7 linked regions of the Homo sapiens genome follow. The protein of the gene in region 7 interacts with the protein of the main gene of each other region in a biochemical or structural test. Each region holds a gene or a part of one and is shown on either strand. Other genes may lie near its edges.

Evidence for each region.
Region 1: the proteins of HIF1A (region 7) and RACK1 form a complex in vitro, tested with the Homo sapiens proteins (2 studies listed by BioGRID).
Region 2: the proteins of HIF1A (region 7) and EPO form a complex in vitro, tested with the Homo sapiens proteins (2 studies listed by BioGRID).
Region 3: of the proteins of HIF1A (region 7) and USP20, one has a biochemical effect on the other in vitro, tested with the Homo sapiens proteins (2 studies listed by BioGRID and IntAct, with this or other methods).
Region 4: the proteins of HIF1A (region 7) and FHL2 form a complex in vitro, tested with the Homo sapiens proteins (2 studies listed by BioGRID).
Region 5: the proteins of HIF1A (region 7) and MTA1 form a complex in vitro, tested with the Homo sapiens proteins (2 studies listed by BioGRID).
Region 6: of the proteins of HIF1A (region 7) and UBE2I, one has a biochemical effect on the other in vitro, tested with the Homo sapiens proteins (2 studies listed by BioGRID).

The regions. Positions count from the first base shown.
Region 1 is NC_000005.10:181,235,888-181,239,357, reverse strand, and holds the end of RACK1 (small ribosomal subunit protein RACK1), read left to right. Parts: intron 1-180; coding exon 181-291; intron 292-1,118; coding exon 1,119-1,259; intron 1,260-1,638; coding exon 1,639-1,749; intron 1,750-2,315; coding exon 2,316-2,381; 3' UTR 2,382-2,461; downstream 2,462-3,470. UniProt on the Homo sapiens protein: Scaffolding protein involved in the recruitment, assembly and/or regulation of a variety of signaling molecules. Interacts with a wide variety of proteins and plays a role in many cellular processes.
Region 2 is NC_000007.14:100,719,096-100,723,267, forward strand, and holds the start of EPO (erythropoietin precursor), read left to right. Parts: upstream 1-1,372; 5' UTR 1,373-1,885; coding exon 1,886-1,898; intron 1,899-2,462; coding exon 2,463-2,608; intron 2,609-2,866; coding exon 2,867-2,953; intron 2,954-3,568; coding exon 3,569-3,748; intron 3,749-3,882; coding exon 3,883-4,038; 3' UTR 4,039-4,172. UniProt on the Homo sapiens protein: Hormone involved in the regulation of erythrocyte proliferation and differentiation and the maintenance of a physiological level of circulating erythrocyte mass.
Region 3 is NC_000009.12:129,841,425-129,846,139, forward strand, and holds part of USP20 (ubiquitin carboxyl-terminal hydrolase 20), read left to right. Parts: intron 1-4,715.
Region 4 is NC_000002.12:105,364,552-105,368,051, reverse strand, and holds part of FHL2 (four and a half LIM domains protein 2), read left to right. Parts: intron 1-312; coding exon 313-482; intron 483-3,500. UniProt on the Homo sapiens protein: May function as a molecular transmitter linking various signaling pathways to transcriptional regulation. Negatively regulates the transcriptional repressor E4F1 and may function in cell growth.
Region 5 is NC_000014.9:105,464,279-105,468,694, forward strand, and holds part of MTA1 (metastasis-associated protein MTA1), read left to right. Parts: intron 1-137; coding exon 138-289; intron 290-395; coding exon 396-585; intron 586-815; coding exon 816-905; intron 906-2,147; coding exon 2,148-2,300; intron 2,301-2,428; coding exon 2,429-2,464; intron 2,465-4,059; coding exon of another isoform or gene 4,060-4,071; intron 4,072-4,416. UniProt on the Homo sapiens protein: Transcriptional coregulator which can act as both a transcriptional corepressor and coactivator. Acts as a component of the histone deacetylase NuRD complex which participates in the remodeling of chromatin.
Region 6 is NC_000016.10:1,311,958-1,316,672, forward strand, and holds part of UBE2I (SUMO-conjugating enzyme UBC9), read left to right. Parts: intron 1-389; exon of another isoform or gene 390-646; intron 647-2,062; 5' UTR 2,063-2,073; coding exon 2,074-2,139; intron 2,140-2,335; coding exon 2,336-2,419; intron 2,420-3,696; coding exon 3,697-3,769; intron 3,770-4,715. UniProt on the Homo sapiens protein: Accepts the ubiquitin-like proteins SUMO1, SUMO2, SUMO3, SUMO4 and SUMO1P1/SUMO5 from the UBLE1A-UBLE1B E1 complex and catalyzes their covalent attachment to other proteins with the help of an E3 ligase such as RANBP2, CBX4 and ZNF451.
Region 7 is NC_000014.9:61,701,427-61,706,141, reverse strand, and holds part of HIF1A (hypoxia-inducible factor 1-alpha), read right to left. Parts: intron 1-4,715.

The sequences.
Region 1 (3,470 bases), on a different chromosome or scaffold from region 7:
TCCCTTGTAAGTCAGCACACTGCATTGGATATGTGTTATAATCTAACGTGAAGTGGCCAGGACATGTTACTGAATGAGAAATGGCTACCGTATCCAGAAGTGCCAAGCCCTTTTTTGTTGGGCCTGACCCTAGCTCATCAAGAGCTAGGATGTTCACCTGTCAACCGCACGTCTATGCAGGTATGGAACCTGGCTAACTGCAAGCTGAAGACCAACCACATTGGCCACACAGGCTATCTGAACACGGTGACTGTCTCTCCAGATGGATCCCTCTGTGCTTCTGGAGGCAAGGTATTTGGGGACAAGGCGTCTCCTACTCAGTGGAAGACAGCGTCATGGAAGGAGCACTTAGCCAGCGTCTCTAACGTAAAATGGCAAACATTAGCCAAGATGGTTTTAGGAGGATAATGAGATAATGGCAATCTGAGAATATGTTTCCAAAGATTACTTTCAGCAAATGACAGTTAAGGCATACTATCTGGAAGAAAAAGATGATTTTCTATAAGCCTGTGGGTTTTTTTTGTTGTTTTTTTGTTTGTTTGTTTTTTGTTTTTTTTTTGAGACGGAGTCTCACTCGGCTGCCAAGGCTGGAGTGCAGTGGCGCGATCTCGGCTCACTGCAACCATCTCCCGGGTTCAAGCAATTCTCCCATCTCAGCCTCCCGAGTAGCTAGGATTACAGGCACCCGCCATCACTCCTGGGTAATTTTTGTATGTTAGTAGAGAGGATTTTACCATGTTGGCCAGGCTGGTCTTGAACTCCTGACCTCAGGTGATCCGCCCACCTCGGCTTCCCAAAGTGCTGGGATTACAGGCATGAGCCACCGCACCCAGCCTAAAGTTGGTTTCTTGAAGCAGTTGATGAGATTGGGATCCTGGTTTTCAGAAATGATTGGAGTGATTTATGTAAGTTGGGAGGGGTTTTTTGATGGGGTTGGTAAGGTCTTACGTTAAAGGAAAGGTATACAGAGATAAATATTGGTACTTGAGTCATTAGCTTTCAAAGAAGCCTGGGGTAATGGAGGAAAGGTAAGAATTGATTCTGACAGAATCTTGAGATGGGCAGAATTAACATCTGGAAGAGGTCACAGTGTCCTGATTTACCTTACCTGTGTCCAGGATGGCCAGGCCATGTTATGGGATCTCAACGAAGGCAAACACCTTTACACGCTAGATGGTGGGGACATCATCAACGCCCTGTGCTTCAGCCCTAACCGCTACTGGCTGTGTGCTGCCACAGGCCCCAGCATCAAGATCTGGGTGAGTGTGGGTTACAATTGACTGGGTACCTGGCTGCACTCTGAGCCCTGGCAATGTTTTGGTTATTATATATGCCATCTGACTCCCACCTGGGAGCTAAGCTTTCTCAGCCTCCACGTAATGACATTTTGGTCTGAGTAACTCTGTTGTGGTGTGCAGTCCTGTACATTCCAGGATGTTTAGCAGCATTTCCAGCTTCTACTAGATGTCAGTAGCAAACCATCCTTCCACTAGTGGCAACTGAAAATGCATGTAGGCATTGATACATGGACCCCAGGGAGCAAAATCATCCCTTTTTAACTTGAGAATCTTGAGGGGCTTTTAAGAGGAGACTCTCTTGATTGGTAAGTCTTAAGGTTGCTTTTGCCCTGTTCCCCAGGATTTAGAGGGAAAGATCATTGTAGATGAACTGAAGCAAGAAGTTATCAGTACCAGCAGCAAGGCAGAACCACCCCAGTGCACCTCCCTGGCCTGGTCTGCTGATGGCCAGGTAAGTGGGTCTGTCCTCTCAGGTGATTCTGCTTCCAGTTAATTTTCTCCCTCTCATTCTGTTAGTATATCTAGTCTGTCAGACACAAGAGCAGTGTCCTTGGCATAAAGTGAAATGACAAGCCAGGTTGATGAGGATGCCCTCGTTTGCCATGCCAGTGAATGTGTTTCTGCATCAGAGGGAAGACTGATGTGGAACGCAGTGGCTGTCAGCCTTCAATTAATACCTTAATTAATCTGACCAGTTTTCAAATGTCTGGAGCCTTATCACCAGCTGTTTCTTCCTCAAGGAATACATAACCACCACTTACAAGCTGGCTGTTGAAATGAGAGCGGTTTCTTACAGTCTACCCGGCGTTGTGGCACATGCCTACTGGAGGCTGAGGTGGGAGGATCTCTTGAACTGCAGGGGCTTAAGGCTGTAGTGAGCCAGGATCGCACCCCTGCACTCCAGCCTAGACAATGGAGCAAGGTGGACGGATCTCAAAAAAAGCCACTTGGGCTGAATCTAGTGAGACTGCAGAATTTATGCCAGCCTGACCTGTCACTGTCATTTCTTCCCTGCAGACTCTGTTTGCTGGCTACACGGACAACCTGGTGCGAGTGTGGCAGGTGACCATTGGCACACGCTAGAAGTTTATGGCAGAGCTTTACAAATAAAAAAAAAACTGGCTTTTCTGACTTTTAGGTTTTTTTTTCTTATATGCAAAAAAGCTCCATTCTATCTACATTGCTTACACATTAAGTTTGCACTAGCGAACTGGATGCAAGGTATGGACTAAGTAAACAAGGCTTTGAAGGGGAGCTGTCCGTCTAAGTTCTCAGGATTGGGGTAGCATCAGGTGGGATGTTTGTGAGAAGTCACATAGCAGTTTCCCTGAACTTAAACCCCATCAGCGTCCTACATACCACGTGCAGATCATCAGGGCCTACCTTCAACCTGGGGAACCTTCTTGAGGGAAAGAACTGATTTCAAAGTGGTTGCAGTCAATTTTTAGAAAAAGCAGACTCCGCAGGTCCAACCCCTGACACGTAAGAGTGGAAGATGAATCCTCATTCCTCTAAAGATTTGAACATAATTCAGAAAACTTAAGCTTCATGTTAGCAGTCTCTGTCAACATGGTCTTTGAGGAAAGTCAAGGGTTTTTAATTCTTTAAGCAAGGCAGTTCTCACCAGAAGAACTTAATTCAAAACTAATTTATTCCTCAGGTCAAAAGTTTTGGGGTGGTTGGTCTGGAAGCATTCATAAATAGAACCATAAAGTTGGCCCTACTAAACATTTCAACTGCTACTATAACCTGGCCCTCAATCCCCCTACACACAAACACAGTTTATTCATGAGGATAGATGCCTTGTGAAAGGCCAGAAGTGAGCCATTAAACTACAATTACAGTTTCCAATAGAAACCTCAGTACAGGGATGGAATGGTTCAACATGCGGCTGAGACCCCACTACCCTTGCAATTTTCTGTGCTAAGCAACTACAGCATATTGAAGGCCCACATGCACCCTCCACTTCCTACTCCCCTCAATTTATAATGGTGATGAGGCATTTCTGGCTTCAGTTTCAACTACGTGTGGCAAACATCTCTAAGTAGACTGAACAGTTAGTAAGTTAGGTTAAGATATTAAAATGGGGAGCAGGGTCCACATCCCTGTTGAAATAGGAGCCTGCCTGGTAACAGGTGCAAAGCATGCCTTTAACTGCAACTAACCAGTTCA
Region 2 (4,172 bases), on a different chromosome or scaffold from region 7:
ATACCTCTTCCCATTGATGTCCTACCCCCCTTCAAGGCTGAGGTCATTGTCACCTCCTCCCTCAAATCTTTCTTGATTTCTCCCGGCTAACTCTTACAGCTCAGATCTACACATTCCAGTCTTTTTTTGTTTTTGAGACAGGCTCTCACTCTGTCGCCCAGGCTGCAGTGCAGTGGCACGATCATGGCTCACTACGGCCTCGAACTCCTGGGCTCAGGTGATCCTCCTGCCTTAGCCTCCTGCATATTTGGGACTACAGGCGTGAGCCACCACACCTGACTAATTATTTTTTATTTATTTATTTATTTTAGAGACAAGGTCTTGCCATGTTGTCCGGGCTGGTCTCGAACTCCTGGGCTCAAAGGATCTTCCTGCCTTGGTCTCCCAAAGTGCTGGGATTATAGGTGTCAGCTGCGGCGCCTGGACCTTTCCTGTCTTTTATGAAACCTGAATGGGATAGGCTGGTAGTTTCACCACACCCATTTGACAGATGAGGACATTGAGGGCTCAAGGACGAGGCCACTTTCTAAGGTGTGAGAGACCAGCTAGTCTTGGTCTCCTGCTCTGGGAATCTCACTCCTCTGGCTCAGGGTTTCCAGAAGCCATAAAACCTTAGCTGTAAATCCCAGCCCCCATCACTCTTGGTGTTAGCTGTATTTCAGTGTTCTTAAGAACTCAGCAATGCAGCCTAGCTAACCTACACCACAGGTCAAATAAACAGATGTCAAGGTGCATGTGTGTCCTGCACAATGGACTGTGTGCTCTGTGCACTAAAAGTTAAGTGTCTGGGGTGGGGGCTGGGTGCGGTGGCTCACGCCTGCAATCCCAGCACTTTGAGAGGCCGAGGAGGGTGGATCACCTGAGGTCAGGAGTTCAAGACCGGTATGGGCAATATGGCAACACCCCATCTCTACTAAAAATACAAAACATAGCCGGGTGTAAAGGTGTGCCTGTAGTCCCAGCTGCTCCAGAGGCTGAAGCAGGAGAATTGCTTGAACCCAGGAGGCAGAGGTTGTAGTGAACGGGAGATGGCACCACTGCACTGCCTGGGCAACATAGGGAGGCTACATCTCCAGAAAAAAAAAAAAAAGTTAAGTGTCTGGGTTTGCAGAGTACTAGACGGTGAGGAGTGAGGTGGGGAGGAAGAACCCCAAATTTCTTGCCCTATTTGCCCCCATCAAATTCCTCAACATGGTCAACATTGTTTCTAGAACATGTCCTGGGATTGTGGGAAGGGAGACCACTCATTTGCCCCTCCCTAAAGCTTCTGGGCTTCCAGACCCAGCTACTTTGCGGAACTCAGCAACCCAGGCATCTCTGAGTCTCCGCCCAAGACCGGGATGCCCCCCAGGGGAGGTGTCCGGGAGCCCAGCCTTTCCCAGATAGCACGCTCCGCCAGTCCCAAGGGTGCGCAACCGGCTGCACTCCCCTCCCGCGACCCAGGGCCCGGGAGCAGCCCCCATGACCCACACGCACGTCTGCAGCAGCCCCGCTCACGCCCCGGCGAGCCTCAACCCAGGCGTCCTGCCCCTGCTCTGACCCCGGGTGGCCCCTACCCCTGGCGACCCCTCACGCACACAGCCTCTCCCCCACCCCCACCCGCGCACGCACACATGCAGATAACAGCCCCGACCCCCGGCCAGAGCCGCAGAGTCCCTGGGCCACCCCGGCCGCTCGCTGCGCTGCGCCGCACCGCGCTGTCCTCCCGGAGCCGGACCGGGGCCACCGCGCCCGCTCTGCTCCGACACCGCGCCCCCTGGACAGCCGCCCTCTCCTCCAGGCCCGTGGGGCTGGCCCTGCACCGCCGAGCTTCCCGGGATGAGGGCCCCCGGTGTGGTCACCCGGCGCGCCCCAGGTCGCTGAGGGACCCCGGCCAGGCGCGGAGATGGGGGTGCACGGTGAGTACTCGCGGGCTGGGCGCTCCCGCCCGCCCGGGTCCCTGTTTGAGCGGGGATTTAGCGCCCCGGCTATTGGCCAGGAGGTGGCTGGGTTCAAGGACCGGCGACTTGTCAAGGACCCCGGAAGGGGGAGGGGGGTGGGGCAGCCTCCACGTGCCAGCGGGGACTTGGGGGAGTCCTTGGGGATGGCAAAAACCTGACCTGTGAAGGGGACACAGTTTGGGGGTTGAGGGGAAGAAGGTTTGGGGGTTCTGCTGTGCCAGTGGAGAGGAAGCTGATAAGCTGATAACCTGGGCGCTGGAGCCACCACTTATCTGCCAGAGGGGAAGCCTCTGTCACACCAGGATTGAAGTTTGGCCGGAGAAGTGGATGCTGGTAGCTGGGGGTGGGGTGTGCACACGGCAGCAGGATTGAATGAAGGCCAGGGAGGCAGCACCTGAGTGCTTGCATGGTTGGGGACAGGAAGGACGAGCTGGGGCAGAGACGTGGGGATGAAGGAAGCTGTCCTTCCACAGCCACCCTTCTCCCTCCCCGCCTGACTCTCAGCCTGGCTATCTGTTCTAGAATGTCCTGCCTGGCTGTGGCTTCTCCTGTCCCTGCTGTCGCTCCCTCTGGGCCTCCCAGTCCTGGGCGCCCCACCACGCCTCATCTGTGACAGCCGAGTCCTGGAGAGGTACCTCTTGGAGGCCAAGGAGGCCGAGAATATCACGGTGAGACCCCTTCCCCAGCACATTCCACAGAACTCACGCTCAGGGCTTCAGGGAACTCCTCCCAGATCCAGGAACCTGGCACTTGGTTTGGGGTGGAGTTGGGAAGCTAGACACTGCCCCCCTACATAAGAATAAGTCTGGTGGCCCCAAACCATACCTGGAAACTAGGCAAGGAGCAAAGCCAGCAGATCCTACGGCCTGTGGGCCAGGGCCAGAGCCTTCAGGGACCCTTGACTCCCCGGGCTGTGTGCATTTCAGACGGGCTGTGCTGAACACTGCAGCTTGAATGAGAATATCACTGTCCCAGACACCAAAGTTAATTTCTATGCCTGGAAGAGGATGGAGGTGAGTTCCTTTTTTTTTTTTTTTCCTTTCTTTTGGAGAATCTCATTTGCGAGCCTGATTTTGGATGAAAGGGAGAATGATCGAGGGAAAGGTAAAATGGAGCAGCAGAGATGAGGCTGCCTGGGCGCAGAGGCTCACGTCTATAATCCCAGGCTGAGATGGCCGAGATGGGAGAATTGCTTGAGCCCTGGAGTTTCAGACCAACCTAGGCAGCATAGTGAGATCCCCCATCTCTACAAACATTTAAAAAAATTAGTCAGGTGAGGTGGTGCATGGTGGTAGTCCCAGATATTTGGAAGGCTGAGGCGGGAGGATCGCTTGAGCCCAGGAATTTGAGGCTGCAGTGAGCTGTGATCACACCACTGCACTCCAGCCTCAGTGACAGAGTGAGGCCCTGTCTCAAAAAAGAAAAGAAAAAAGAAAAATAATGAGGGCTGTATGGAATACATTCATTATTCATTCACTCACTCACTCACTCACTCATTCATTCATTCATTCATTCAACAAGTCTTATTGCATACCTTCTGTTTGCTCAGCTTGGTGCTTGGGGCTGCTGAGGGGCAGGAGGGAGAGGGTGACATGGGTCAGCTGACTCCCAGAGTCCACTCCCTGTAGGTCGGGCAGCAGGCCGTAGAAGTCTGGCAGGGCCTGGCCCTGCTGTCGGAAGCTGTCCTGCGGGGCCAGGCCCTGTTGGTCAACTCTTCCCAGCCGTGGGAGCCCCTGCAGCTGCATGTGGATAAAGCCGTCAGTGGCCTTCGCAGCCTCACCACTCTGCTTCGGGCTCTGGGAGCCCAGGTGAGTAGGAGCGGACACTTCTGCTTGCCCTTTCTGTAAGAAGGGGAGAAGGGTCTTGCTAAGGAGTACAGGAACTGTCCGTATTCCTTCCCTTTCTGTGGCACTGCAGCGACCTCCTGTTTTCTCCTTGGCAGAAGGAAGCCATCTCCCCTCCAGATGCGGCCTCAGCTGCTCCACTCCGAACAATCACTGCTGACACTTTCCGCAAACTCTTCCGAGTCTACTCCAATTTCCTCCGGGGAAAGCTGAAGCTGTACACAGGGGAGGCCTGCAGGACAGGGGACAGATGACCAGGTGTGTCCACCTGGGCATATCCACCACCTCCCTCACCAACATTGCTTGTGCCACACCCTCCCCCGCCACTCCTGAACCCCGTCGAGGGGCTCTCAGCTCAGCGCCAGCCTGTCCCATGGACACTCCAGTG
Region 3 (4,715 bases), on a different chromosome or scaffold from region 7:
GGTGGTTAGAACTTCAGCATATGAATGGGGGAGAGAGAACAATTCAGTCCATAACAAATACTATGATCTAACAGGCAGTCCACACTCAGGCATGCTGGTTGTCCTGGGGATGTTCTTTGTGGCATCCCCCCACATTGACCCACAATCCAGCTTTGTTATGTCTCCTCAGTGTCTTGCCTGGAACAGTTTCTCAGCCTTGGTGGAGAAAGGGAACCTTCACGTTGCAGGGAAGCAAAGGTGCTCAGCAGGAATGGGGGTTCAGAAGCGCAGGCTGCCCCAGGACAGGGAAGCTGTTGAAGGGTTTGCTCTAGTCCATGAAGTTGCCTTTCCTGGCTTTTTCTTTGATGTCAAAAGCACCAGGAGGTGAGCTTAGATCTCAGGAAGCGCACCAAGAATCCGTGCATGAGTCCCCTGCGGTGTGTCTGACTCCATCACCATGGCGCCTGTTCGTTGCTGGGCTGGTTGGCCTGCAGAGCCCTGAGTGGTCTCATGGAGGGTGCCCTTCTGAGTGACCTTGAGCATGTGACTTCTATTCCTACCAATTTCAGTGTCCTAATGTATAGAACAGCCAGTGACACAAATTATAGTAGTAAACATTTTTTGAGCATTCTTGTCATGCAAATCAATAAAAAATCTGAGCCACCCAGAAAGTCCATGAGGCCCTAAGTCATTCAACTTAGCGTTTACTGTGCATTGGCTCACTTCATCTTCTCAGTAACCCTAGGTGCTGTCATTGTCCCCATTTTATGAATGTGGAGACTGAGCGATTTATCTAAAGTCACAGACTTGCAAGGGGCAGAGTGAGGTACTGAACCCAGGGCTACTTGTCCCTGTAATTTCCTTCCATAGTGACCGTTACCTCCCGGGATAATGTATGTGCAGCAGCTAACCCTCAGTGAGTGTAGGAAACAGAGGTGCTGGTGGTGATTATCACCTCCCTAGTGTCTGCTTGCAAGTACCCTGAGGTTGAAGTATGGGACTCTGTACACTACAAGAGCAGGGCCTATGCCTGGCTGTTTCCCAGCACCCCAAGTCACTGTTCCTAAGGAGGTACATGGTCAGTGTTGGTTGGGTACCAAAAGGAAGCAAAATGATAACTTTCAGACAGCTGAGATATGCACCCTCTTGTCGACCCCCATGCTTCCGATATTTTAGGTCCTGTGTGTGGAAGTTTTTTTTTTTTTTTTTAGACGGAGTCTTACTCTGTTGCCCAGGCTGGAGTGCAATGGCGTGATCTCGGCTCACTGCAACCTCTGCCTCCTGGGTTCAAGCGATTCTCCTGCCTCAGCCTCCTGAGTAGCTGGGCTTACAGGCATGTGCCACCACACCTGGCTAATTTTTTGTATTTTTAGTAGAGATGGGATTTCACCATGTTGGTCAGGCTGGTTTCGAACTCCTGACCTTGTGATCCACCCTCCTTAGCCTCCCAAAGTGCTGGGATTACAGCTGTGAGCCACCGCACCTGGCCCTTTGTGTGGAATATTAAGCACCCAGTGTTTTCTGTACTACCGCCCTTTTTCCTTCATAGAAATGATTTTTAACCATTAATTTTTAAAATGTTAGTAAACCTTAAACTTTTTATGTTGCACATACTCATATACTGCTGATAGGCAGATAAATGTATATACTGTTTCTAAAGGGAAGCTTATCAATATCTATGTAGAGCCTTCAAAGCACACATTTTGACCAATAATTTTTTTTTTTTTTTTTGGTCAAAGATGTAGGCCGGGCATGGTGGCGTACACCTGTACTCCCAGCACTTTGGGAGGCCGCAGTGGACAGATCACTTGAGGTCAGGAGTTCGAGACCACCCTGGCCAACGTGGTGAAACCTCGTCTCTACTAAAAATACAAAAATTATGTGGGTGTGATGGTGGATTCCTGTAATCCCAGCTACTCTAGAGGCTGAGGCAAGAGAAACGCTTGAACCCAGGAGGCGGAGGTTGCAGTGAGCAGAGATCACGCCACTGCAGTCCAGCCTAGGCAACAGACTAAGACTCTGTCTCAACCACGACAACAACAAAAAGACAGTCTGGTCGCAGTGACTCACGCCTGTAATCCCAGCACTTGAGAAGCTGAGGCAGGCGGATCACCTGAGATCAGGAGTTCAAGACCAGCCTGACCAATGTGGTGAAACCTCATCTCTACTAAAAATCCAAAAAGATTAGCTGGGCGTGGTGGTGTGTGCTTGTAATCCCAGCTACTTGGGAGGCTGAGGCAGCAGAATTGCTTGAACCCAGGAGGTGGAGGTTGCAGTGAGCCGAGATCACACCACTGCACTCCAGCCTGGGTAACAAGAGTGAAAACTCCATCTCAAAAAAACAAAACAAAACAAAACAAAAAGATTTAGTCAAAGTTTCACATTCCTGGTGGCTCACACCTGTAGTTCCAGTACTTTGGGAGTCCAAGGCAGGCAGATTGCTTGAACCCAGGAGTTCCAGACCAATCTGGGCATCATGGCAAAACTCTGTCTCTATAAAAGAAAAATTAAAAAGTAGCCAGGCTTGGTAGTGCATGCCTGTAGTCCTAGCTACTTGGGGGGCTGAGGTAGGAGGATCACCTGAGCCCAGGGAGGTAGAGGCTGCAGTGAACCATGATCACACCATTGCACTCCAGCCTGGGTGACAGATTGAGACTTGTCTTTAAGCAAAACAAAAGATTCATATTCCAAAATGTTTCTCAGTGCCTTCTTTATAATGGCAAAACACACATACACAAAATACAAAAATACCACGTCCTATGATGGATAAATAATTCAGTAAGGGGTTGTATAGCTTAAATTATATGTGGTATAATATTATTCACCTATTAGAAATGAAGCTGAAAAGAAATTTAGTGACATTAGAAATATATAAACCAAAAAAAGCTGTATACAAATTTATTGGTTATATTGCAGTTTATTTTTAAAATTTATATATCTGGTTGGGCATGGTGGCTCACGCCTGTAATCCCAGCACTTTGGGAGGCCCAGGCAGATGGATTGGTTGAGCTCTGGAGTTTGAGACCAGCTTGGGCAACATGACGAAACCCCATATCTACAAAAAATACAAAAATTAGCCAGGCGTGGGAGTGTGTGCCTGTAATCCCAGCTACTCGGGAGGCTGAGGTGGTAGGATGGCTTGAACCTGAAGTGGAGAGTGTGTTCAGTCGAGATCGCACCACTGCACTCCAGCCTGGGTGACAGAGCGCGACTCTGTCTCAAAAAAAAAAAAAAAAAAAAAAAAATTATATATTCGTACATGTAAATAAGACTTACCAAAACCAAAAAGGTAACCATATTTTTTTTCCTGTACAGCAGGATTACAGGTGATTTTTATTTCATTTTATGTCTGTGTCTGTTTCCAGCTTCTATGAAGGTATATATCAAATTTATGAAAACCAGACAAAAATGCCTTTAAAATTTTCAGGACAAGTAGGAGAAGATGAAAAATTTGAATACAACATGGAGGTAAATGAGGCAAAAATGAATATTGAGAGGGCCGGTCATGGTGGCTCATGTGTGTAATCCCAGCACTTTGGGAGGTGGAGGTGGGCAGATCACTTAAGCCCAGGAGTTCAAGACCAGCTTGGGCAACACGGCAAAACCCTGTCTCTACCAAAAATACAAAAATTAGCCAGTCTCATAACCTGGTCTCTAAATAAATAAATAGATAAAAATACAAAAAACACATGTTGAGGGCACTTCTTGGCCCCTGTGAGTCACCTGGAGAAGTGTGCTTAGGAGCCATCCAGGTAGCAGCTTTGGGGACTTCTGGGACCACTCAGATGCTCCCACCCCTTCTCTGAAAACCACCCTGTGTAGGCTCAGGGCAGTGCCTGGCACAGGGGCCTGGAGAGCTCCAGGGAACAGAGGCTCTGTCCCCTATGGTGCCCTCAGGAGTTTGGGGAAGAGCAACATACCTAGGAAGCCAGATGCACACTCTTCTTATTTTCTTATTTTGGAAACTTGAAAAACCATTAACAGTAACCGATTTAGGTATTTTTTTTGGTTTGTTTTTGTTTTTAGGAGCAGAGGTTTAACAGGCAAAAGAAAAAGAAAGAAAGGAAAACAGCTCTCTCTCTAGTGAGAGAGGGGACTTCTGAGAGGAAAAGCATTTTTTGTTGTTTTTTGATTTTGGTTTTGTTTTAGAGATGGGTTCTTGCTCTGTTGCCCAGGCTGTAGTGCAGTGGCACAATCCTAGTTCACTGCAGCCTTGAGCTTAAGGGATCCTCCCTCCTCAGCTTCCCAAAAGCACTAGGATTACAGGCGTGAGCCACTGTGACTGACCTTATTAGATTATTAGATTAGAATGATTATAACACAGTCATTCAGGAAGCAAGTATAGGAAGAAAAAAAAGGCAACACAAGTTCATTGTAGAAAATGCAGAAAAGCAAAAAGGAAATAAAAATCACTTGACTCTATCCTCCAGAAAAGATGATAGCATCCTTTCTCTAGGCCTAAAACACATTATTTCACCAAAATAAGAGTTTACTGTAATAATAGGTTTTTTTTGTTTTGTTTTGTGTTTTGTTTTTTTTGAGACAGAGTCTCGCTCTGTCGCCCAGGCTGGAGCGCAGTGGTGCGATCTCGGCTCACTGCAAGCTCAGCCTCCTGGGTTCATGCCTTTCTCCTGCCTCAGCCTCCCGAGTAGCTGGGACTACAGGCGTCCGCCACCACACCCAGCCAATTTTTTTGTATTTTCTTTTAGTAGAGACGGGGTCTCACCATGTTAGCC
Region 4 (3,500 bases), on a different chromosome or scaffold from region 7:
TTGCATTGCTGAGAGAGACTTAACTTTTTTTAGATTTAACATTCCTAACCACGGTATTCAATAAATAAATGTTAAGTGCCTAAAATGTACACGTGTTGTTCTAGGAGCTGGGTGTACAGTAGTGAACCAAAAGACAAAGTCCACGCCCTGCACAAAATAGGAATTACCTCCATGTAGAGGCGAGCCTTCAAGAGCTGAAGTGGCTTGCTCTGGTCATAAAACTAGAGGGCAGCAAGCTCTGAAGGCAGATTGCTGGGACTCCACACCCCTCTAACCATAACTCTGCTGTGTTCCTCTTGACCCTGATGACAGGTACCCGCAAGATGGAGTACAAGGGCAGCAGCTGGCATGAGACCTGCTTCATCTGCCACCGCTGCCAGCAGCCAATTGGAACCAAGAGTTTCATCCCCAAAGACAATCAGAATTTCTGTGTGCCCTGCTATGAGAAACAACATGCCATGCAGTGCGTTCAGTGCAAAAAGGTATCTCAGATGCCCCCTTGGCCCTTGCACGTTCTGGCTGGTTTGCCTCCATGGTCCATGTCTGTCAGTTCTCTTTCCAAAACCAAGGATACCTGTGATACTTAAGTGGCGTGGGAGCTGTGCCTGTCCTGCCTTACATTCTGAGCATTTATCCATCGGGTCTGGGTGTCCATCCTTCTTTCAAAGACATCAACATTGTTGAGCTCTGTGATCAAATCGTTTAACCCTGCCTTCTTCTAGACCATTTCTAAATATGTTCTTATGTTGATAACCTGAGGTTAGAGGGAAGGGGAGCCACCATCCCAAAGCTGTCTTGTTCAGCTTCTCTCCATGAATAAAACAAGAAAACAACTGCAAACTTGAGAGGGAGAGAAAGATGGAAGGAAGAGGGAGGAGAGGAAGGGAGGAGAGAGAGACGGATGTGAGAAGAAAAGTAAAGGAGAAAAGTCTGCCTCCATGGATATGGGACAGATCATTTATTAAATGTATCTACTCTGGCCGGGCATGGAGGCTCATGCCTGTAATCCCAGCACTGTGGGAGGCCAAGGCTGGTGGATCACCTGTGGGAGGCCAAGGCTGGTGGATTACCTTAGGTCAGGAGTTCAAGACCAGCCTGGGCAACATGATGAAACTCCATCTCTACTAAAAATACACAACTTAGCTGGGTGTGGTGGCACACGCCTGTAGTCCCAGCTACTCAGGAGACTGAGGCAGGAGAATCACTTGAACCCGGGAGGTGGAGGTTGCAGTGAGCCAAGATCCCACCACTGCACTCCAGCCTGGGCGACTGAGCGAGACTCCATCTCAAAAAATTAAAAAAATAAATAAATAAACTTATCTACTCGATAATGTGCTATTCCAGTCATGGCTCTGTTAGGGTTAAAGAAAGAAAGGGAACTGCATATCTGTAGGAAGCCATCTCTCTGCCCAGTTGCCCCCCGACCTGCACCCTTCAGGGTGTAGCTTAGTTTTCTGCTGTGCCCTCTGACTCTTAGACACACGCAATTCTTATTATGCTATAGCTTCCAGCGTCTCTGTCCTGTTAGGATTTGCATCAGCCTGTTGAGTGGCACCCTCCCACTGCTCACTCGCCCTGGGCAGCGCCAGCTGTGGAACTCATCACAGGTTCTGTTCGCTCTCCTCCTGTTATTGACTCTGCTCACCCAGCTTCTGCTGTTTTGCCCTTGGGGCCTCTACCCTTGCGTCTGGGCCATGGAGAAACATCCCCAATGCTGCTACCTGTACCTGGCTGGCCTGGGCAAGAATATCCCCACCTTGCCCACACCTTTTCTAAGTGCTGAGTATTCTTACCAATTTCCATTCAGTCTTTCTCTCATTTCCTTTTTTTTTTTCTTTTTTTGAGACAGAATCTCACACTGTCGCCCAGGCTGGAGTGCAGTGGCTCGATCTTGGCTCACTGCAACCTCCGCCTCTTGGGTTCGAGCAATTTCTCCTGCCTCAGCCTCCCAAGTAGCTGAGATTACAGGCGTGCGTCACCATGCCCAGCCGGTTTTTTTTGTATTTTTAGTACAGACGGGGTTTCAACATGTTGGCCAGGCTGATCTCGGAACTCCTGACCTCAGGTGATCGACCTGCCTCCACCTCCCAAAGTGCTGGGATTACAGGCGTGAGCCACCATGCCTGGCCCCATTTGTTCTTTACTGTTATTTTAAATTTTATTTCTCTTTATTTCCTCTCCTTTTATGCTTCTGTTTTTTTCTTTTTTTGAGACAGTTTCACTCTGCCACCTGGGCTGTAGTACAGTGGCATGATCTCAACTCACTGCAACCTCTGCTTTCTGGGTTCAAGTGATTCTCCTGCCTCAGCCTCCTGAGCAGCTGGGATTACAGGCAGGTGCCACCACCAAACCCACCTAATTTTTTTTTTTTTTTTTTGTAGTAGAGACGGTGTCTCACTTTGTTGGCCAGACTGGTCACAAACTCCTGTTTTTTTCTTTATTCTTAGATTGAGCTCTCATTCCTGCTTTTATTTTAGGAACCCTCTTCCCTGTTCTCTCCCCTTTTTATTTTTATTTTGGTTTGTTCTTCTCATCAAGACCTAACGGAAGTTCATCTGAGTTGCTCTTCCTCTGTCATCTTTCCAATGTGTGCTTTATTCATTTGCAGAAATGAAAGCAACACATCCTTCTGGGATGCATGCTTTTTGTGTGCATGTTCATTAAATACACAAAAACATTCATGCCAGAAGCATCCATTCCTCGACATGAACTTGGCCCTCTCAGGCACTGGGGATCTGATGCTGGACAAGATGCAGACACTTAACTGTAGTCTAGGTGGAAGTACACTCCAGTGTCAAACCCGTCAGTAGTTACTGAGCAGTGTGCTATGGAGGAGAAGAGCAGAGTGTGGAATGGAGGGACCTCAACTAATCTGAGGAGTTGGGGGCCAGGGTGGTGTTGAGGGAAGGAGTCTCTGAGAAAGTCATGCTATGCTCAGAGGCATTGAGTTAGCTGATGTGGGTGGGAAGCATGGAATCCGGAGCAAGGGAGGACTGAGGACACATGTTGCAGGCAGAGATGTCTTACACACACAGGCTACTGCATTCACATGGATACGTTGCAACCAAGCGTGTTTGGTGTTCATTCTCTTGTGCAGTGGGGTGGGTTATACTAAGATGCTTCATGATTTATGGTTTAATGAAAAGAATACAAGATAGAAGGGAGTCCAGAATTCTAGTTCCTGCTTCGTCATTAACCAGCTATGAATTCTTTGGCAAGTCACTTTTTAATTTCTCTGAGTCTCAGTTTACTCATCCATAAAATTAAGATAATATCTTTCCTACTTCACAAGCTTTATGTAAAGACCAAAGGAGTTACTGCATGATACTGAAATGTTCAAAAAATAAAAAGCAAAAAAGTGTGATTGTGAGGTGCTTGCACTCCATCTTCCACAGCCTTCGTTTGCCAAGCTGAGGCCACCTACACTCCTCTCTGATAGCTTACTCAGCTCCACCAAGCACTCATTTTTAAATAGAATGTGAGATGCAACATTTGGAGAA
Region 5 (4,416 bases), about 44 Mb from region 7:
GTGTGGTTGGGAGAGCCTCGGGGAACGTGTGGGGGTGCCTGGCGGGTGGGGGCGGCCGGCGTGGGGGTGGCGGGGAATACTCTGACATCGCTGGTTCTGCTTAAGAATCCGTCTATTTCCAACTTTGTTGTCCGTAGCCACACAGTCTTACCAGTGGTATTCTTGGGGTCCCCCTAACATGCAGTGTCGTCTCTGCGCATCTTGTTGGACATATTGGAAGAAATATGGTGGCTTGAAAATGCCAACCCGGTTAGATGGAGAGAGGCCAGGACCAAACCGCAGTAACATGGTAAGGGGGGGGACACCCGCCCTGCCTGCCATGAGCCTGTCGGCCACGCGGGTCCTCGGCCCCCGGTCATGGCGCTGTGTTGGGGCGGTTGCGCCCCCTTCCGCAGAGTCCCCACGGCCTCCCAGCCCGGAGCAGCGGGAGCCCCAAGTTTGCCATGAAGACCAGGCAGGCTTTCTATCTGCACACGACGAAGCTGACGCGGATCGCCCGGCGCCTGTGCCGTGAGATCCTGCGCCCGTGGCACGCTGCGCGGCACCCCTACCTGCCCATCAACAGCGCGGCCATCAAGGCCGAGTGTGAGTCACCCCAACGCCCCGCTTACTCTGTTCCTGCGGGTGGTGGGGAGAGAGCAGCAACCTTGGGGCCCAGCCTGTAGCCCCACTGGGAGTTCTGATCTCAGGGAGCCCCACGTCCTCCTCGGTGCTGACATGGCCGAGCCCAGTGAGGGCTCCCAGGTCAAGGCGCAGGCAGGGTCCCGTGCTCCCCTGGGGGTGCCCCACCCCTCACACCGTGTGGTACCCCGCAGGCACGGCGCGGCTGCCCGAAGCCTCCCAGAGCCCGCTGGTGCTGAAGCAGGCGGTACGCAAGCCGCTGGAAGCCGTGCTTCGGTATCTTGGTGAGCAGCCAGGCGTGCTGGGGGGCTCCCAATGCTGCCTGCAGGCAGCTTCTCACCCAAGCTCATGCACTGGTGCTCCCAGCCTTCTCTAGCTGGGAGCTCCTGGACAGCCCCCCAGGGCCTGGAACTGTCCTTTTGGGGTACTCTGCACCGTGCCAGGCTCAGGCAGACCCACTGGGACCCAGGCTGCTCCCTGCTCCTGGGGTCGTGATGGGGCCCAGTGCGGAGTAGCGGCCGCCCTGTCTTCTGCGGGGCCAGCCTCCTCAAGGCACACCCGGGGGCTTCCCTGCCAGTCTCGCTACCCTGTTCCCTGTGTTCTGATCGTCCCTGGGGCCTGAGGGTCTGGGGTTTAGGTGGTGCACACCCCTGCCTGTAATACCATTAAGGCAGCGTCGTACCTGCTGCCTGCAGGGAGTATACTTCCTGAGCCACGCCCACTCCACAGGGGCAGCACTCAGGCCTCTGCACGCCCTCGGCAGGGGGAGGAGCAGCCTCAGGCGGCAGGGGGTTCCTTTGCCTTTGAGCATCTGAGGACACCCGAGAACCTCAGCCGGCTACCCTGGCCCAGCTGGAAGCAGCTTGGTGGCTGGGCCAGACATTTGTGGTGGCGGTGGGGGGCCTCCTCCATTTGCTGGGCTCGAGTGGGCTTGTGCATCTGCCCTCCCGACACAGGGTGACTGTCCTGAGAAGGACATTCCAGAGTCATGAGCCAAGTGTGCTCTGAGATTCAAGTGGCTTTGGCATTGCTCCCTGTTTGGGGTTGTGGCCCCTGTCCTGTGGGAAGAGGTGGCTGGTGTCAGGGCTGGTCCTCAGCAGCTGTGTCCCTGGCCAGGCTGGCTGGATGGTTGGTTCGCTGTCTGACGAGCAGCCAGCCCTCCACCAGCAGCTCCGGGGGCCTGGACGTGGGGGCTGTTTAATAGGCGTGCTGTGCTCACGGGCCTGTGTATGGATCCTGTTGTCCCGGGGCTGAGGGGCCTGGCCCCCGCCAGGTGGTCTCCCTGCTCTCTGGAAGCCCTGGGGTGCGGGACTGGCCCGGGCACACGCCTTGCCGAGGGCTTCTGGGCTTCTGGTTCTGTGGTGACCTCCCCACTTCCAGCCCAGTCAGGATGGGGCCTCGGGTGGGGGCCGCATGGGGCTTAGTTCCTGGGGGTATCCCGGAACCATGAGGGCTGGAGCCTGGGCCTGCCTGCCCCTCCCCTGCTGGGCAGAGGCAACTCGTTCTGCCTGTGTCATTCCCGGCAGAGACCCACCCCCGCCCCCCCAAGCCTGACCCCGTGAAAAGCGTGTCCAGCGTGCTCAGCAGCCTGACGCCCGCCAAGGTGGCCCCCGTCATCAACAACGGCTCCCCCACCATCCTGGGCAAGCGCAGCTACGAGCAGCACAACGGGGTGGACGGTGAGTGGCCCCCCCGCCCGGTGAGTGTGGCCCTCCCCGCCCGGTGAGTCCGGCCCGTCCCCGCCCGGGCACCCGCCGTGCGTGCTGACGCTGTCTTCTCTCCCTCTCTCCCACCCCGGCGCTGCCAGGCAACATGAAGAAGCGCCTCTTGATGCCCAGTAGGGGTAAGGCCTGGAGCCGCGGGCGGGCGCTGCGCCGGCCCCGCCCGTGATGCCTGTGCTGTGCTGCTCTGTGTCCCCGCGGCGGGCGGCCCAGGGCCCATGCTTGGGGCAGTCCACGTGAGCCAGGCCACAGCCCAGTTCCCCACATTCCTCCCGACATCACTGGTCCCTTGGTGAAGACCCCCCGAGCCCAGGCATCTGGCCCTCGGCCCCCTGGCCCCGCCTCCTGTCAGTGGACTGTCCTGGCACGTGTGGCCCTGGCGCCCCTGCCTGCGCTGTCTGCCATCGCGCTGTGACTGCCCGCATGCTGCCAGCCTCAGCTCGTGGGGCCGCCCGTGCTGTGCCTGCAATCCTTCCGTGCGCCTGCCAGGCGGGACAGTGGGGAGGGTGGTCGGGGGTGTCTGTGTGGGCCGTGGGCAACTGAGCTTGTACACATGGGTGCCTTCTGTCGGAGGACTGGCTCAGGTGCTCTGTGCCGGTTGCTTGGAGCAGGGGCTGCGGGACCCCAGGCCCCTTGGGGAAGAGCAGATAGGACCAAGCCTAGCATGAGGAGGCCAGGTGTGTGGGGCCCGGGTGTGCAAGTGCTGGGCCTGCCAGTGTGGATGTGCCTGGAGCCCCTTCGCCAGGCGGCTTTCACTGACGGTGCTGGCCAGGGCAGCAGGGCCGGTTTGGCGACCTGGAGGTGGATATGGGTAGTGGCTGCCCAGCCCAGCCAACCCTGTCCCCTTGGGGCATTCTCTCGAGGCTGCTGGGTGTCCTGGCAGGCACGTCCTGTGGGGTCAGCACGCCGGCTGCAGCGCAGGGTGGGCCTGAGATCGGGTGCCGGGCCCCCCATCTCCACCTGTCTGGACACGCACCCCTGGCCTGTCCTTGCAGCTTCCTCCCGACATCCCTTGGCGGTGTCTGTGTCTCGGCCCCAGCCCCAGCCCTCCTTTCCTGGGGCACCCTCCCAGCCATCTGGTATTGGGGCTGCCCCCATTGCCTAGTCCTGGGCCCAGGGCCAGCCCACTCTGGGCTGGCTTTACTTGTCTGTTCCTAATGGCAGGGCGTCCCAGGAACAGCCCCATAAGAGCTGGTAGAAACAGGAGGGAGTCCTTGTCAGCAGGCATCTTCGAGCTTTTTGTTTTGTTTTGTAAAAAGCGGTTAACCAGCAAGTTACATAAAAGCTTATTTGTTCCCACTGAATTTTCCACACCTCACACGTGAGTCCCAGCCATGCAGTGCTTGTGAGGGAGCATCACCCCTTGCCGCCTGGCTGGGCGGGGCCCTGGGCTCAGAGGGGTCAGCCACAGAGGAAGCGCCTGTCCTGACGTGTAGCGGCCAGGACCTGGGCGCTGGAGAGGGGCCAGCTGGGTGAAGACGGCTCCCGGGGGCACTGGCGCACACGAGGTGGGGTCTCTGTCCAGCCTGGGTAGGCATGAGCTGAGCTCGAGTGAGGGCCCTGCCTGCCCACAGCACGGGGCCCCAGCGCTCTAACCCGGCCATTTGCCCGTGCAGCCTGTTGCGCTGTCCCCACCTGCGGGGCCTGCAGATGGCTGCGTGTGGCTCACTAACCTAAAGCATGTGTTTCTTCCCTCTGCTGTCCACCGCTCTGGTAGGCACTTACCTGGGTAAGTAGTTTTTGTGCTACTGGCCAGCCCTGGGCGCTGGGCCTTGGCTTGTGGCAGGTGCCCTGAGGTATGGCTGTTCCTGCTTGGGAGCGCCGCAGATCAGGCACCTGGGCCCCCACCTGACCCTGCCCGGCAGAGCTAAGCAAACTGGCAGGGAAAGGCTGACCCAGGGCTCCAGGGCCCCAGTTGGCCCCCAGGGGAGTGCCCCAAGTTAGGAGGCAACTGCAGGTGGGGAGGGGCTGGACAGGCTGCTTCTGTTCCTTAAGGGATGGGCCTCAGCTAAGCAGCGTTTCTGGAGCTGGCAGGTTGCTCCGATGCCCCTGGGCCCTGGCACCTGACTGAGTT
Region 6 (4,715 bases), on a different chromosome or scaffold from region 7:
CCAGCCCAGTGCGGAGACAGCCTTGAAACCGTGGTTGGCGGGCGCTCCACTCCGCTCTGGGCTCGAACCCTGCCTGACCATAGCTGTGCCCCCCACTTTCTCCCTGTCTGGCCCCTGGCTCCCCCCCCCTCACTTAGAGGAGGGCACGGGGAAGGGCAAACGGTCCAGAGGGCGGGCGGCCTGCGGGCTCCTCTGCATCATGTGAGGAGGGCGTGGGGAAGGACATCCCGGTGGGGCCCGGTCTGGGGCTGCCTCCAGCCCGGGCTGCCTGTCTTGGACTTAGTCGTGGACCTGGAGGCCAGTGCCCGGCTGGCCCCTGTCACCCTCTCGCTGTGACGCCAGCGCCTGCTGACTGGAGGACCCAGGTTCCTTCGCCTGCTTTTTCTCAGGCTGCCCTGAGGATCTGTGTTTGGTGAAAAGGAGCCAAATTCACCTGCAGGGCAGGCGGCTCTAGCAGCTTCAGAAGCCTGGTGCCCTGGCGACACTGGACCTGCCTTGGCTTCTTTGATCCCAACCCCACCCCCGATTTCTGCTCTGCTGACTGGGGAAGTCATCGTGCCACCCAGAACCTGAGTGCGGGCCTCTCAGAGCTCCTTCGTCCGTGGGTCTGCCGGGGACTGGGCCTTGTCTCCCTAACGAGTGCCAGGTGAGGCTGCGGCGGCTCCGACGCAGGTGGAGCTGCTGACCTGGCCCCTTTCTGCGGCTGCGAGGTGTGTGAGGTTCGTGGGCCTCCACAGGTGTGGGAGCCATCCAGGTCCCCAGGGCCCTTGTGGCTATTCTAGGACAGCCCAAGCCGTAGTAGGGACGGCCCCCCACAGCTTAGAAGACCTGGCTCAGTCCCCCAGCTTTGTAGAGGTGGCTCTTGTTTGGTGTTGAGATATCAGACTTGGGGGTAGTAGCTTCAGTGTTCCCATGGACTTTGAAAACCAGCACACACTTAGGTTTGAATTCTTGGGCAAGTTTTGTATCTTGAGCGCTGTTTTTCGTGGGTAAAGGTGGCCACCAGTAGGGTGACAGTTGAGGGTGGCATTGAGGCTGCTGGCCCTGTCTGCCTGGTGTCCCCAGTGACAGTGCTGGCCGACAGGCTCCCGCCGAGAACGCAAAGGCGAAGGTGCCAAGCCCCCGAGGTCCCGTGCAGATGTGTGGAGCTGGAATCTGGCGTGTGTGCCGCTGCCTCTGATCAGGGACCTGGTCCCCTACCCCATGCTCCTGCCCTGCCCTGCAGGACCCGTCTGTCCCCTGAAGCCACAGGGACGTGGTAGTGGCTGCACGGTCTGGGAAGGGTGTCCCCGTGGAGGGCTCCTCTCTCAGTGAGGCTGAGCCTCTGCCCTGTGGTACTTGTTCTGCTCTGTCTTCAACATGGTGAAACCCTATCTCTACTAAAAATACAAAAATTAGCTGGGCGTGGTGGCACACGCCTGTAGTCTCAGCTACTCGGGAGGCTGAGGCAGGAGAATTGCTTGAACTCAGGAGGCGGAGGTTGCAGTGAGCCGAGATCGTGCCACTGCATTCCAGCCTGAGCAATAGAATGAGACTCTGTCTCAAAAAAAAAAAAAAAAAAAAAAAAAAAGAATAACAGGTGTCCCCTGGCCCAGCCTGAGTCTCAGTTCTGAGCGCCTGATACTAAGGCAGGGACCCAGCACCCCACATCCATCTGGGGCCCCAGCCCTGCCTAGTCCCCACCTGATGGTATGGTGAGGACCCTGCCATGTCAGCCACCACAGGGTGGCAGCTACCCCCCAGCCGCAGCGGCCCAGCCTCTGAACATCTGTCTCCTCACCTTCGAGCAGAGGCCGCAGCATGTGTCGCAGACCAGGGCTGGGTTGGGGCCATGGGGAGGGGTCCTACCTGCCCCCGCCTCCCGGTGATCTGGGCGCCGCTCACAAGGCCTCCCCTGGTAGACCCCCGGGGTCGGACGACGGCTTGCAAGAAGAGAGTCCCTGCTGGGCCAGGCCACCGTATGTTAGGAGCAAGCCTGCCTGCTGCGGGCCACGTGCGCGTGCTGGGGTGGCAGGAGCCCGCTCGCCTCTCCTGACCCCGTGCTCTGCCTCCTGTGTTCCAGGGACTTTGAACATGTCGGGGATCGCCCTCAGCAGACTCGCCCAGGAGAGGAAAGCATGGAGGAAAGACCACCCATTTGTAAGGAGGGCTTCATTTCTGTGTGCAGTGCCGCGGACAGGCTCCCTCGGCTGAAACCGCGCCCTCCCTACTGGGAGGGAGCTGGTCGCGTGCCTGGGCTGGGCCGGTGGGACTCGCAGGCCGGTTCTTGGTGGTTTTGCTCAAACTAGATGCCGCCACGCTGATATGCTTTTGTGGTTGTTTTCTTTTCTCTCAGGGTTTCGTGGCTGTCCCAACAAAAAATCCCGATGGCACGATGAACCTCATGAACTGGGAGTGCGCCATTCCAGGAAAGAAAGGGGTAAGGGGCGCTGCCGGCCTCCTGCCTGTCGGGGCTCAGCAGATGCGTGCGGCAGTGCCATGGGGATACTCCGCTCAGATCCCTGCCGTCCGTGACGGCCACCCTTGTCACAGGCCGCGGTCAACAGCTCAGATCCCCAGCTGTGGCCTGGCCCCCGCCCCGTGAGGACTTGAGCTCAGAAGGTGGTGCTGGCAAGGTTGGGGTGACAGCTGTGTCCCTACCGAGGGCATTTCTGGTTGAGAAGGAAGCAGGCTGGGCCTGGCCGGGCACAGGGCTGAGCTGTGGCAGAGGGGAAGGGGCTCTGATGTGTGTTGGGAGCAGGCCTGAGGGGCGGGCAGCCTTTGCGTGCTGGAACCCGGGATTCTGCTGTGTCCTTCCAGGTGTGGCTCAGGTCGCGGGAGCTGGGTTTGCAGGAGAGCCACCCCGGCCTAAAACCGTCTACTGGAGAACCTCCTGGGGCACAGGGACTGGCGGCAGCCACCTAGGATGCCTGCTTGGGGCCCCGTGTGTCTGTGGCAAGCAGGGCGGCCCATGTGCCTGTCCTCTTTGCCCGGCTCACATGAAGTGCTTGGCCAGGGACTCCAGGCCGGCTTGCACATAAGGTTCATGCTCGTGGACTCTGAAGGAAGGAGAGATCCCTGAGGTGTTGGTCCTGCCCGAGGCCTTGTTCCCTCCGGCCCATGCCAGCCTCTGGGTTTCGCTCTGAAACTCACAGCAGCTCCGGCCCCCTGAGCTGAGCAGTCCCAGCAGGACTCAGCTTTGCCCGAGACAGGATGTGGCTTGGATTTGTCACTTGTCTGAGGCTCTGCTGAGAACGTCCCTTGCCCTTCACATTACGGCGAGGCAGGTGCGCGCGCGGCCCCAAGGAAGACGGGAGTGGTGTCGGGTTGTGGGGTGGCAAAGGCGCCTCATCCAGGCGGGACCTGGGGCAGGGGCTTGCAGAACACCCTGGGGTGAGGGCACGGGTGTGCTCTTGGCGCTGCCGGCCCCAGTGTGCGGCACTCGTTGCCCCCCAGCCCAGCCCCCGACCCCCGTCTCCTCCTCTCCTTTCCAGGAGGGCCTTTCCGACTCACTCTCTGGGCATGGCAGAGGTCCTGACCGCCCCCTTGGTGGGGCTGGTCCAGGCTTCAGGCTGGTATGGGAGCCGCCTCTGTCGGGCCTCTGGCCCCCGGTGTCCTCGCAGTCCTGGAGGTTGTGTCCTAGAAGCGATCCCCTTCCTCCTGGGCCGGCCTGCGGCAGGCAAGCAGCCCATCTCACCACGGTTTATTTCCCCACAGACTCCGTGGGAAGGAGGCTTGTTTAAACTACGGATGCTTTTCAAAGATGATTATCCATCTTCGCCACCAAAATGTAAGTAGCTCCCTGTTCAGTGTCCTGGAAGTCGGCCTGTTCCTGCGGGGATTGGAGTCCTCTCCAAAGAGGCCCGTGGCTGTGGCCGTGGCGCCCTGGTCCGGGCGATCCATGGAGCTGGGAGGGAGTGAGATCACAGATTTGGAGGTCGGCTTTGATCCCTGATCCCCGCCTCAGGCTGCAGATGCGAGTCTGTTTCCAGCTCCACGGGTGGGCGGTGCACGTAATAGACTTAGTCTCTCATCCCAGCTAATTGGCTGGGAAGCTCCAGAGTCCTTTGCAGGGAGAGGCTGTGAGATCCAGGCTGGAGCTCCTGGGCTAGGAGTGCCTGGACCCTCAGTGATTGTTGGCGATGAAGACAGGATTTGGTGCCCACAAGACCCCAGCCCTGGATGGGATGGACGTGCAGAAGCGCCACCACTCCGAGTCTCACTGGAGGGTTTATCTTGCCCCACCTCACTGCTCTTCCTGTGGGCTCTCGCAGTCTCTCCCACCCGGGGCTGCGTCTGCAGCCGGGCAGGCATAGAGCAGGGGAGCAGCAGAGAAGGCGCGAGAAGAAAGGGCTGAGGCCAGGTTCGACTTTGAGCCTACAGCTAAGTTAGTGATCTCAGTCAGTTCAGCAAAACTCAGGAGAGGGAGGAGAGGGCCGCCACGTCCCTGCCGTCCCATAGCTGGAAATCGGCAGGCCCTTTCTGTGGTGAGTTCCACGCATTAACACGTGCCCAGCACCTAGACAGCGCCTGGCCACGGTGAGGCGAGAGTGCTGTGTAAAAGCTTCCACTGCAATTGTCACTCAAGACACACAAGTGTTTTCCACAGTGGCAGTGACCAGAGGAGCTTGAGGACTGCTGACAGCACCAGCTGGTCGAGACTTGCTTCATTTTTGGATTGTCCTTTGCTGTTTGATTTTTTTTTTAAACCATGAGCAGGTATTACTTAAGATGAC
Region 7 (4,715 bases):
TTCTTTCTGTTTCCCTTATTTATATGCTCTTAGATGGTAACAGATCTAAGACTAGAACCTAAGAAGGTCAGTGACCCTAAACTTTGTGTGTATGTAGAAGAATGTGTCCTTGAAATAATTATTTGCTTAACTTTAATAGAAGATGCATAAATAATAATAAAGTACTTACATAACAGGAAAAAACACATGTATTGAAATAAGGGTGTACAATAGAAAGCATACCCTAAAGACTTCTTCTATTAAATATTTAGCTCTAAACCTTGACCATGATTAAGATTCTGGAAATGACAAAGGAGCAGCTCTCCTAAAGCAAGAGTCTCTGTTTTCCAACTATACTAATCCATCCTATCCAATATTACCAAATAAATTTTCCAAAGTGACCTTCTGATCCTGTTTCTTTGTCTTTAAAAAGGGTTAGGTAACACTATTAGTGTGTGGCAGATCTCAGATTCCACCTGAGAATCTCCACCCTTTTCCCCATTTTAATATGAAGCCCCATTTTTAATATGGCCTATGCCTTTCCACAAATCAGATGCTCAATATATAATTTTTAAATTAAAAGATTCAAGAAATTTGGGACTATTTTTTAAGAATAGAAGGAAGAAACATGATAGCTACCCTCAGATATTTGAAAAGGATATCAAACAAAAGGCGGATTTGGTAATTTATACAACTCCAGAGAGTAATAAATAGGAATTACAACATGGCAGTGCTTTGTTTAATAGAGTTAAAGCAGTGTTGAAGTTACACTCTATGAGAATTTTTAAAACCGTGTTTTCATTTTGGTGGCATTGTAAAAAAAGAAAAGGCATATTCTACATCATCTAAATGATCTCTCCATAGTTCTGTATACTTGCCTCAAGCCTTCTGTGTTTGAGGCTGCATTTGTTTATGATCAAACTGTTACCAAATGACCACTAAAAGGAACAAGGTTACATTTTTTAATGCAGTATACATACTCAGACTGAGGTCACTGGGTACATCTCAAAAATTCAGAGGATTATTTTGCTCCAAAAGAGATCTGAACATTAATCCTGTGTTAAGAAACACAGGAATAAAAAAGAAAATAAGTAGATTGTCTTGTGAGAATGTTTTGTGTATGTATGTCTGAAAATTCTAAAAGCAGACTGGCCAATGCGCCTGTGGTGGTTGACATTAAATAACAAAACTTAAACCCAAAAGTCTGTACTTCGCAAGAACCTCAAACTTTAAAGTGCAATGAACTGAAAATTTAAAAATGGAATATGCTATGAATGAATGAATGAACATAAAAAATGGAATGTTCAACTGTGGCCTAAGCCATCAACGATTCAATGCTGTACTCAATAAATTAGCTGCACAAATACCTGTTGAATAAATGAATGCACAACAATCTGTTACAGGACATAGTATAATAGTTAGGTGCCTGAGTCATGGTTAAGCGTTGAAGAAATTTTTTGAACCACTGAAATAAGTCAACTTAAATTATTCAAGAAAATATCCCTTCATCCATTCACAGTGAAGGCTTTGACTACTGGTTTGACACTATAACCATTTAAATATTTTAACTATGTTAGCTACAAAGGCAGGCAATATCCAACTTTCCTCTGCTAACAAGTTAAAAGACATTTAATGAGATTCTGGACACAAAGGACATGGAAATGTAGGCTTTCTTAATTTCCCCCTCCTTTAACATCCCAAATAAATAGCTTTGAGAACATTTTTCTTCCTTTAGTATTACCACTATGGAAAATTATTTTAGAATAACATGTCTATACATAAACCAGTATTTAGTCTGCAAAGGCCAGATGTTTATGGAAAAAAAACCAAGTAAAGGAAAAGCATCAGTAACTATTCTGCCACTATTATTTACTCACTGGTGGTGAATAGCCTTCGTCAGATTATCACAAAGAAGGCTTGAGCGATTCTAAACAATGTTGAAAACAACTTAACCAATACTATAATATTATGAATATATGGATAGTTTCTACTTAATTAAGCCCTTACTTTGTGCCAAGAGCTGTTCTGAGTGTTTCATATGAGTTGATGTATCATTTCATTCTCATAACAATCCTATAAGGCAATTATTCTTATCATCCCAATAAAGCAATTTGTGTAAGATCACACAGTAGAGCTAAACGATCTAGAAAAATGTGTGATCTTAACACATATTTAGTAGAGAAAAGGATCATCTTTTTCTTGAGATGAAAACCCTAACCCATAGAAGAAATACTCAACTTCCCAAAAGTCATGACAAGAACAGCTTGCAGAATGACTACACTTGGTAGAAAACTATAGAATATGAATTCAAATGACTTGCAACAAAAACTCATGGCCCATTAATTACTGGTCAAGAGTTCTGTGTATAGTAAGATAATATTCTACAAGAAGACCATCAAATATGCTACAATAAGACATATTTGACTCATGTAATCAGGGAACTCCATTCACATGGCCAAGTAGGGCAAAACGTTTTCTTCTAGGAAACTGATATATAGACACTAGAAGAGAGAGGGAGTTTTTTTTACTTTTTTTTTTTTTATATTACAAACTGTATGGATGCAGGTATGGGGATGCTAGCCGTCCTCTTCCACACCATACAGACAGCCTGTCAGTGGCAGAGTAAGGCCAGCATGCAAATAGAGCAAAGGTATACAAGCCAAGTAATATCAAGACAAAAGTCAGGGATTATTACACTCTGAGATCATTTGAGACTCTAGATTTGTCTCTTAAACCAAAATTAGATTGTGTTAGCCAATGACTACATTTTCCCCTCTTAAACTAGATTGAGTTGTATTTTGCTACTTGCAATAAGAAGAATCCTAATATACTTATCAAATTGCCAGTGTTCCAAATTTAAAACTTTAATGATGATAAAGTTCAAGAAAATGACACTCTAAAATACAACTAGGTCAAACTTTCTAGAAGATAAACAGGCAATTACATTGAAAGCTTTAAAATGGATACTTTTTGACCCTGTAATTCTACTTCTTCTAATTTATTATTAAGAAAGAACCATGAGGCCGGGCATGGTGGCTCACGCCTGTAATCTCAGCACTTTTCTCACTTTTTTGAGAATAGGTTTGATAAAAAGGCAGTAATGGTAAAACAGACTATATCTGAAATCTGGAGAGTATTAAGAGCCATATATTATGTTAAGTACCCAACATTAATATTATCTAATTTAACCATCACCACAAGCCTACAAAATTCTGATACTCTTCCTCACTATTTAGATGGGAAAAAATGTAGATGTAAATTTTTTAAAAGCAGGTTAAAAACAGTACTCAGTCCCTAATCCTACAGTTATTAACATACAGATGTAACACAGAATTGAGAAATAGTAGACAATGGTCTCTACATAGTGAAAAAGCAGGTGATTTTTATTTCTTTGTGCACCTGTGTAGTTTTTAAATTTTTTCCTCCAAAATTTTAAAATTTCATTAACATTAAAATAGTTTAGCCAGATCAAATGATTGTAAACACACTCAGGGAACTCCTATTTAAATGGTATTCTATTATAAAGCAAAGAGAATAATCAATGCTCTTCTATTATAAAGCAAAGAAAATAAACCCCAACCTTACTATAAAGTAATAGAATTTAAATATCTATATCAAAAAAAGTCAAAGGAGATTCTTTAACTTTCTTCTTACCAATCAGTGAATCTCAGACAGGGAACTAAAGAATTAAAACATTCTTTTTAATTTTTTTTTTTTTTTTTTGGAGACAGCATCTCACACTGTCATCAGGCTGGAGTGCAGTGGCGCGATCTTGGCTCACTGCAACCTCTGCTTCCCAGGTTCAAGCGATTCTCCTGCCTCAGCCTCCGAGTAGCTGGGATTACAGGCATGTGCCACCACATCCTGCTATTTTTTTTTTTTTTTTTTTGTATTTTTAGTAGAGACGGGGTTTCTCCAAGTTGGTCAGGCTTGTCTTGAACTCCTGACCTCAGGTGATTCACCTGCCCCGGCCTCCCAAAATGGTGGGATTACAGGCAGGAGCCACCGTGCCGGGCCGACAATATTTCTAAAGAAACCTTTTAAAAACCTGCATTCTCTTTGTTCATCCAATTATTCAATCATTGTCTCATTTGTTAATTCAAATACTTATTAAGAGCTCACTGTGTACACCACGTACCAGTATTCACACCACAGATTTCTTTTTTAATTTTTTTGAAACACAGTCTTGCTCTGTCACCCAGGCTGGAGTGCAATGGGGCGATCTTGGCTCACCGCAACCTCCGCCTCCCAGGTTCAAGCAATTCTCCTGCCTCAGCCTCCTAAGTAGCTGGGATTACAGGCACCCGCCACCACGCCTGGCTAATTTTGGTATTTTTAGTAGAGATGGGGTTTCACCATGTTGGCCAGGCTGGTCTCGAACTCCTGACCTCAGGTGATCCACCCACCTCGGCATCCCAAAGTACTGGGATTACAAGCATGAGCCACCGCGCCCAGCCCACAAATTTCAAATTCAGCCTACTTGGGATTTGGTCCACTGAAACATATCCAGTTTTATAATGGAAAGGGGGAGGGTAGAAATCATTTTAAAGAAATTTGCTTAGCATCTGAATTTACAAGACTCTTAAGAACAGAAACGTATCCCAACCCTCAAAGACTTCAACTTTCGCCTTTAAACCTTATTTTTAACCATAGTATTTTTCAGCTGGAAAAACAAATCCTCCCAAACTACTTGGAAAAAAAAAAGGGGGAAACACGGGGGACCTGTCCTTAATGAG